2 linked regions of the Homo sapiens genome follow. The protein of the gene in region 1 interacts with the protein of each later gene in a biochemical or structural test. Each region holds a gene or a part of one and is shown on either strand. Other genes may lie near its edges. The genes, in order: UPF1 and GSPT2.

Region 1 (3,198 bases):
TCCGGCTCATATGCGCGGTGGTTCTCCTCTAGGTCACCATGGCTTTGTCATTGGTTACTCCCTCTTTCTAAGGCGCCCTCTTGTTTGGTGGGCAGTATTGGGTGGGTCCCCCCACAGCTTCGTGAGGTGGGCTAGAGGAGCTGGGCATCGGGTCAGTGCCCCGGCCTGCTGGGGGCCCTGTGGGGCCGCGTGTGCCCCGGTGCCTGGAAGGCCGACTCTCTTGACAGCAGGTCTTCTCTCCAAACGTATCCACCCAGCCAGGTGTCTGCCATGGGGCTGCTTAGAGTCGGCCACAAAATCAACCCGTGTGCAGGGTCAGTGGCTTGGCATTGGGCTTTGGGGCCTGTCCCTGTGGCTGGCAGCCTGCCTGCTGCCCGGTCCACGCCTCTGTTGCCTTGGATTTGGGTTCTGAGTGAATGCAGCCTTGCCTCTTGGACCGTCCTGTGAGACGGGCAGCTCTCCACCTGCGTCCTCAGCACTGCGCCCTTGTTGCAGGTATGGCGTCATCATTGTGGGCAACCCGAAGGCACTATCAAAGCAGCCGCTCTGGAACCACCTGCTGAACTACTATAAGGAGCAGAAGGTGCTGGTGGAGGGGCCGCTCAACAACCTGCGTGAGAGCCTCATGCAGTTCAGCAAGCCACGGAAGCTGGTCAACACTATCAACCCGGTGAGCGCCTGCACAGGACAGCAGGGCAGCACGGAGAAACCCGGGCCCAAAACACTGCTGGGAACGTGCCAGCTTGGCCCGTGTGCCCGTGAGCTGAGGGAGGGCTCTCCTAGGGGAGGGTGGGCTCTCCTAGGGGAGGGTGGGCCAGCCCACTTCTTGTCTCCCGAGCCGTGTGTGGCATTTTTGGCTTGGGGCCGCTAAGTCCTGGGTGGCCTCTGGGAATTGGGCTCAGGGCTGCTGTGCTGCATGCAGCAGCCTGGGACCTTGGACACGGGCAGTTGGAAGCTTTGCAAGCCCGGGGTGATCTGGTAGTGAGGGGGTGTGAAGCTTCCTGAGCTGAGGCCCAAGGGTCAGCATCAGAGCCCAGGTCTGCCGAGGAGGGCAGGCGAGACCCAGAGGCCATGAGACAGCAGCTCCCTCCTGTCTCCAGGGAGAGCCCCTGGCACAGTGTCAACACCTCACAGCTGCATACCTGCCACCTCCCAGGCCACCGGGCCCGTGGGAAGTTGTTCCTTCTGTTGAGATGACAAATTCCTCACCTATCTAAACCTTCGCAGGGAGCCCGCTTCATGACCACAGCCATGTATGATGCCCGGGAGGCCATCATCCCAGGCTCCGTCTATGATCGGAGCAGCCAGGGTGAGTCGCTCAGCAGGGGACCTGGCCGACCCCTTGTCCTCACACCGGGATGCTGGCCGTTCCCATGGCTGCAGCTTTAGGTGCCCCCATCTTTCCTTCCCCTCAAGGGCGGTGCCTGGCTCCCTTGGCCTCCCCGCCCCTAGGGCATCTCTAGCCCCGGAACACTCCTGGGGTGTTTGTCTTTAACCAGAGTTTATTCATTTGTGTTTCCTGGTGATCAAGCTAGTTAGCTTTTTCTTGCCTTTTGGTAGGGCAGGGACTGCATGTAGTACAAATAGAACATTTTCATAAAAAGGATTTTTTTTTTCCTTTGGTAAATGCAGGGTGATTTTCATTTATTTTCTTTTTTTTGTTTAGAGACAGGGTCTCCCTATGTTGTCCAGGCTGGTCTCAAACTCCTGCCTCAAGCAGTCCTTCTGCTCAGCCTCCCAAAGTGCTGGGATTACAGGCGTGAGTCACTGCACCTGGCCAATTTGCAGGTGTTTTTTTTTTTTTTTTTTTTTTTGGAGACCGAGTCTCGCTCTGTTGCCCAAGCTGGAGTACAGTGGTGTGATCTTGGCTCACTGCAACCTCCCCCTCTGGGTTCAAGCGATTCTCCTGCCTTGGCCTCCCGAGTAGCTGGGATTACAAGCACCCACCACCATGCCCGGCTAGTTTTTGTGTTTTTAGTAGAAACGAGGTTTCGCCATGTTGGCCTGGCTGGTCTCAAACTCCTGATCTCAGGTGGTCCACCTCGGCTTCCCAGAGTGCTGGGATTATAGGCTTGAGCCAACACGCCCGGCCCCAATTTTCAGTTTTTAAGATCTGTGTAGGCCAATGATTCCCAGCAGACTCTCCTCGGGGAAGGTGCCTGCCCAAGCACCCAGCCCCAGGCAGGCTGCTGTAGTTAACATGGAGTCCTGCGAATCCGCATCTTCAGCCTGGGCAGAGCCAGGACAGATGTGCAGCTCCGGCTGACTGGCTGGTGGGGTGGGTGGGGTATCGCTGGGGTTTGACCGAGGCAGGTGACACCTGCCGTGTTCCACTGTGATTTGCAGGCCGGCCTTCCAGCATGTACTTCCAGACCCATGACCAGATTGGCATGATCAGTGCCGGCCCTAGCCACGTGGCTGCCATGAACATTCCCATCCCCTTCAACCTGGTCATGCCACCCATGCCACCGCCTGGCTATTTTGGACAAGCCAACGGGCCTGCTGCAGGTGAGCATCTGTGGCTGCGGCTGGGTGTGGCCCTCCTGAGAGCTCTTGAGGGTGTGCTTGTCTGCGAGGCCCTGGCCTCCTTCGGATCACCCTGGACTGCTGTCTTTCAGGGCGAGGCACCCCGAAAGGCAAGACTGGTCGTGGGGGACGCCAGAAGAACCGCTTTGGGCTTCCTGGACCCAGCCAGACTAACCTCCCCAACAGCCAAGCCAGCCAGGATGTGGCGTCACAGCCCTTCTCTCAGGGCGCCCTGACGCAGGGCTACATCTCCATGAGCCAGCCTTCCCAGATGAGCCAGCCCGGCCTCTCCCAGCCGGAGCTGTCCCAGGTGAGCCCGCCCCTGGGACGGGACTTACCTGAGTGAGGGTGGGGCTATGCACCTGAAACATTCCCTCTGAAGAGCCCCAGAGAGCTGGCCTGGCCCATGTCCACTGTCTGAATTACCTGTCCCTGGGCTGGGGTCATCAGAGTGGGTCTCCTGGGTCTTAGTTTGGGGACGGGTTTTCCATTCTTTTCTCTGGGGCTGCTGAGGGCTGGGTGGATGTGAGCACCCTTGGCCTGTGGCTTGCTTACCTCCTGACCTTGTCTTTCAGGACAGTTACCTTGGTGACGAGTTTAAATCACAAATCGACGTGGCGCTCTCACAGGACTCCACGTACCAGGGAGAGCGGGCTTACCAGCATGGCGGGG
Region 2 (4,371 bases), on another chromosome or scaffold:
GGAGTTCAAGACCAGTCTGGCCAACATGGTGAAACCCTGTCTCTACTAAAAATATATATTAAGAAAAATTAGCTGAGCTTGGTGGCGGACGCCTGTAATCCCAGCTACTCAGGAAGCTGAGGCAGGAGAATTGCTTGAACCCAGGAGGCAGAAGTTGCAGTGAGCTGAGATCATGCCACTGCACTCCAGCCTGGGCAACAAAAGTGAAACTTTGTCTCAAAATAAAAAAATAAATCCATCTATGTGACACCATCTTGTACTAAGCAGATTGTTTGGACTGAATAGTCTTTCTAGGTATGTCACAAAACCTGAATTCATAAAAGCAAAAGGTGACAGATTTGAGTACATGAAGACTAAAAACAGATTCAGAGAATAAGTTTGTATTTTCTATGTCAGTTTGCACTAAATTAATTTACAAACAAGGTCGCTGAGGCTTTGACTCAACTGTTAACACTTTCTGAGAGTGAGATTCTTTTGATTAGGGTCTTAAGGTCTTTGTTCATCTCAGAAGTCTTAATTGGTTTAATTAGGCTGACACCTACAGCCCTGTCTCATTACCATAAACTGTAGAGGGGTTCAACATGACACTGATTGTTTCTTAGAGCAAAGCCAGTGCAGTGAGTAGGATTCCAGGCCCCCCGGAATGAAGCAGGAAAACCCGAGGCCTGTGGATGCAGGATGTACTAGGGAGGTGCTGGGGAGTAGTGCAGATAAACCCAGAATTCAGTTGGTTGGTAAAACAAGAGTGATCTGAGTCCTGTGCTTGTCTACGTGATCCACCATTGAATGGCAGGCCAGCCATTGTGCAGGCATCTGCATATGAAGTGACTGGAAGCTTCACTGGAACAAGGATCTCCTTGGAAATTCTCTCCCCTCAGACAGCCAGGGTGCTTAACATGAAAAGAAGTTGTAACCCTATCCTTAAACTATAGAAGCCATCAGCAGAAGTTACAGGCTTATGGGGGCCCACTGGAAAGGGAAAATCAAAAGGCCTGTGGATTTCAAATTAATGAGTGATCTTAAGTTGCATTTCCTAAGTTCGGCTACAGACTCATATATTTCATGAGTCCCTCCCTACCCATTCCTTGCCTCTCCCTTCAGTTGCTGGGTTTCTGAATTTCTGTATAGTTAACCCTTATCTTGCCTCCCATTTGTTCAATAGAAATGATCACTTTTACTTGAATCTTTTGGTAGAATTGTATACCATGTGTTCCTGTCTAGGTTTAATCATCAGATTGTGGTCAAATTGCTCTGCCAGACTGTGTGAACAAAAAAGTGAATGGAAATTTTCGTTTTAAAAAATAATACTTTTGGACTTAGCCCGTGGCTAAGAAGAAGTAAGGAAGCCAAGCGTACGGATAGCAGCGAGGGGTCAATCCACGCCCGGCGTTGGGTCGGGGGTGGAGGAGTCGGAAGTGGTTGGGGTTTGGGGGAGGAGATCCGCTCACACACAAGAGGAGAGTGTTGAGCCGCCATATCTGCTGCTGCCGCCGCAGTTGCGAATGCAGCATCGGCGCTTAGCTGCCTCCGCGGTGCAGCTAAGGTTCGTGTCGCTACCCCTTGGCCCTTCGCTCTTGCTGCCTTAACCCCGCCGGCGGAGCCCGCTCTTCTGGCCTGTTGAGCCCGCTCCCTCACTGCCACACAGCAAGTTCCGAGACCATGGATTCGGGCAGCAGCAGCAGCGACTCGGCGCCCGATTGCTGGGACCAGGTGGACATGGAATCCCCGGGGTCGGCCCCGAGCGGGGATGGAGTCTCCTCTGCGGTGGCCGAGGCCCAGCGCGAGCCCCTCAGCTCGGCTTTCAGCCGTAAGCTCAACGTCAACGCCAAGCCCTTCGTGCCTAACGTACACGCCGCGGAGTTCGTGCCGTCCTTCCTGCGGGGCCCGACTCAGCCGCCCACCCTCCCGGCCGGCTCCGGCAGCAACGATGAAACCTGCACCGGCGCGGGATACCCTCAAGGTAAAAGGATGGGACGGGGGGCACCTGTGGAACCTTCCCGAGAGGAACCGTTAGTGTCGCTTGAAGGTTCCAATTCAGCCGTTACCATGGAACTTTCAGAACCTGTTGTAGAAAATGGAGAGGTGGAAATGGCCCTAGAAGAATCATGGGAGCACAGTAAAGAAGTAAGTGAAGCCGAGCCTGGGGGTGGTTCCTCGGGAGATTCAGGGCCCCCAGAAGAAAGTGGCCAGGAAATGATGGAGGAAAAAGAGGAAATAAGAAAATCCAAATCTGTGATCGTACCCTCAGGTGCACCTAAGAAAGAACACGTAAATGTAGTATTCATTGGCCATGTAGACGCTGGCAAGTCAACCATCGGAGGACAGATAATGTTTTTGACTGGAATGGTTGACAAAAGAACACTGGAGAAATATGAAAGAGAAGCTAAGGAAAAAAACAGAGAAACCTGGTATTTGTCCTGGGCCTTAGATACAAATCAGGAGGAACGAGACAAGGGTAAAACAGTCGAAGTGGGTCGTGCCTATTTTGAAACAGAAAGGAAACATTTCACAATTTTAGATGCCCCTGGCCACAAGAGTTTTGTCCCAAATATGATTGGTGGTGCTTCTCAAGCTGATTTGGCTGTGCTGGTCATCTCTGCCAGGAAAGGAGAGTTTGAAACTGGATTTGAAAAAGGTGGACAGACAAGAGAACATGCGATGTTGGCAAAAACGGCAGGGGTAAAACATTTAATAGTGCTTATTAATAAGATGGATGATCCCACAGTAAATTGGAGCATCGAGAGATATGAAGAATGTAAAGAAAAACTGGTGCCCTTTTTGAAAAAAGTAGGCTTCAGTCCAAAAAAGGACATTCACTTTATGCCCTGCTCAGGACTGACCGGAGCAAATATTAAAGAGCAGTCAGATTTCTGCCCTTGGTACACTGGATTACCATTTATTCCGTATTTGGATAACTTGCCAAACTTCAACAGATCAATTGATGGACCAATAAGACTGCCAATTGTGGATAAGTACAAAGATATGGGCACTGTGGTCCTGGGAAAGCTGGAATCCGGGTCCATTTTTAAAGGCCAGCAGCTCGTGATGATGCCAAACAAGCACAATGTAGAAGTTCTTGGAATACTTTCTGATGATACTGAAACTGATTTTGTAGCCCCAGGTGAAAACCTCAAAATCAGACTGAAGGGAATTGAAGAAGAAGAGATTCTTCCAGGATTCATACTTTGTGATCCTAGTAACCTCTGCCATTCTGGACGCACGTTTGATGTTCAGATAGTGATTATTGAGCACAAATCCATCATCTGCCCAGGTTATAATGCGGTGCTGCACATTCATACTTGTATTGAGGAAGTTGAGATAACAGCGTTAATCTCCTTGGTAGACAAAAAATCAGGAGAAAAAAGTAAGACACGACCCCGCTTCGTGAAACAAGATCAAGTATGCATTGCTCGTTTAAGGACAGCAGGAACCATCTGCCTCGAGACGTTCAAAGATTTTCCTCAGATGGGTCGTTTTACTTTAAGAGATGAGGGTAAGACCATTGCAATTGGAAAAGTTCTGAAATTGGTCCCAGAGAAGGACTAAGCAATTTTCTTGATGCCTCTGCAAGATACTGTGAGGAGAATTGACAGCAAAAGTTCACCACCTACTCTTATTTACTGCCCATTGATTGACTTTTCTTCATATTTTGCAAAGAGAAATTTCACAGCAAAAATTCATGTTTTGTCAGCTTTCTCATGTTGAGATCTGTTATGTCACTGATGAATTTACCCTCAAGTTTCCTTCCTCTGTACCACTCTGCTTCCTTGGACAATATCAGTAATAGCTTTGTAAGTGATGTGGACGTAATTGCCTACAGTAATGAAAAATTAATGTACTTTAATTTTTCATTTTCTTTTAGGATATTTAGACCACCCTTGTTCCACGCAAACCAGAGTGTGTCAGTGTTTGTGTGTGTGTTAAAATGATAACTAACATGTGAATAAAATACTCCATTTGAAACTCTTCGGTTATTTGAAATGCTTTTGAATAATGTTTAAATGTCATTATGTAATGCTATTCAATTAGCTTTATTACTTTCTCAAATAGTTGAATATGTTCTATCACTTAAAAACTTAAAAACTCTTCACCACTTACTGTTTTAAGTGAGGAATTTACAAACAATGCATAAGTGTGTATTAAAGGAATAATTTTAATTTTGAGAAAAAAACGTATGTTAAGGCTCTTCCCAGTGGGCTTTGTTTTCTCTGTCCAAGTCCAGTCAATAAAGGAGCTCTTCTGCTTCCCCACTTGTGATTTGAAAATGAAAGGCTCAGGCCGTCTTTATTTGTATAGCAGTAGTTCATGTAACATTATCCATAGGTTCTTGAAGACTACAACATTAAGCAAAACAATGTACAGCAGGTGTAC

The links.
Region 2: the proteins of UPF1 (region 1) and GSPT2 form a complex in vitro, tested with the Homo sapiens proteins (one study listed by BioGRID).

The regions. Positions count from the first base shown.
Region 1 is NC_000019.10:18,862,943-18,866,140, forward strand, and holds part of UPF1 (regulator of nonsense transcripts 1), read left to right. Parts: intron 1-495; coding exon 496-670; intron 671-1,227; coding exon 1,228-1,309; intron 1,310-2,346; coding exon 2,347-2,508; intron 2,509-2,618; coding exon 2,619-2,836; intron 2,837-3,101; coding exon 3,102-3,198. UniProt on the Homo sapiens protein: RNA-dependent helicase required for nonsense-mediated decay (NMD) of aberrant mRNAs containing premature stop codons and modulates the expression level of normal mRNAs.
Region 2 is NC_000023.11:51,741,968-51,746,338, forward strand, and holds GSPT2 (eukaryotic peptide chain release factor GTP-binding subunit ERF3B), read left to right. Parts: upstream 1-1,474; 5' UTR 1,475-1,659; coding exon 1,660-3,546; 3' UTR 3,547-4,265; downstream 4,266-4,371. UniProt on the Homo sapiens protein: GTPase component of the eRF1-eRF3-GTP ternary complex, a ternary complex that mediates translation termination in response to the termination codons UAA, UAG and UGA.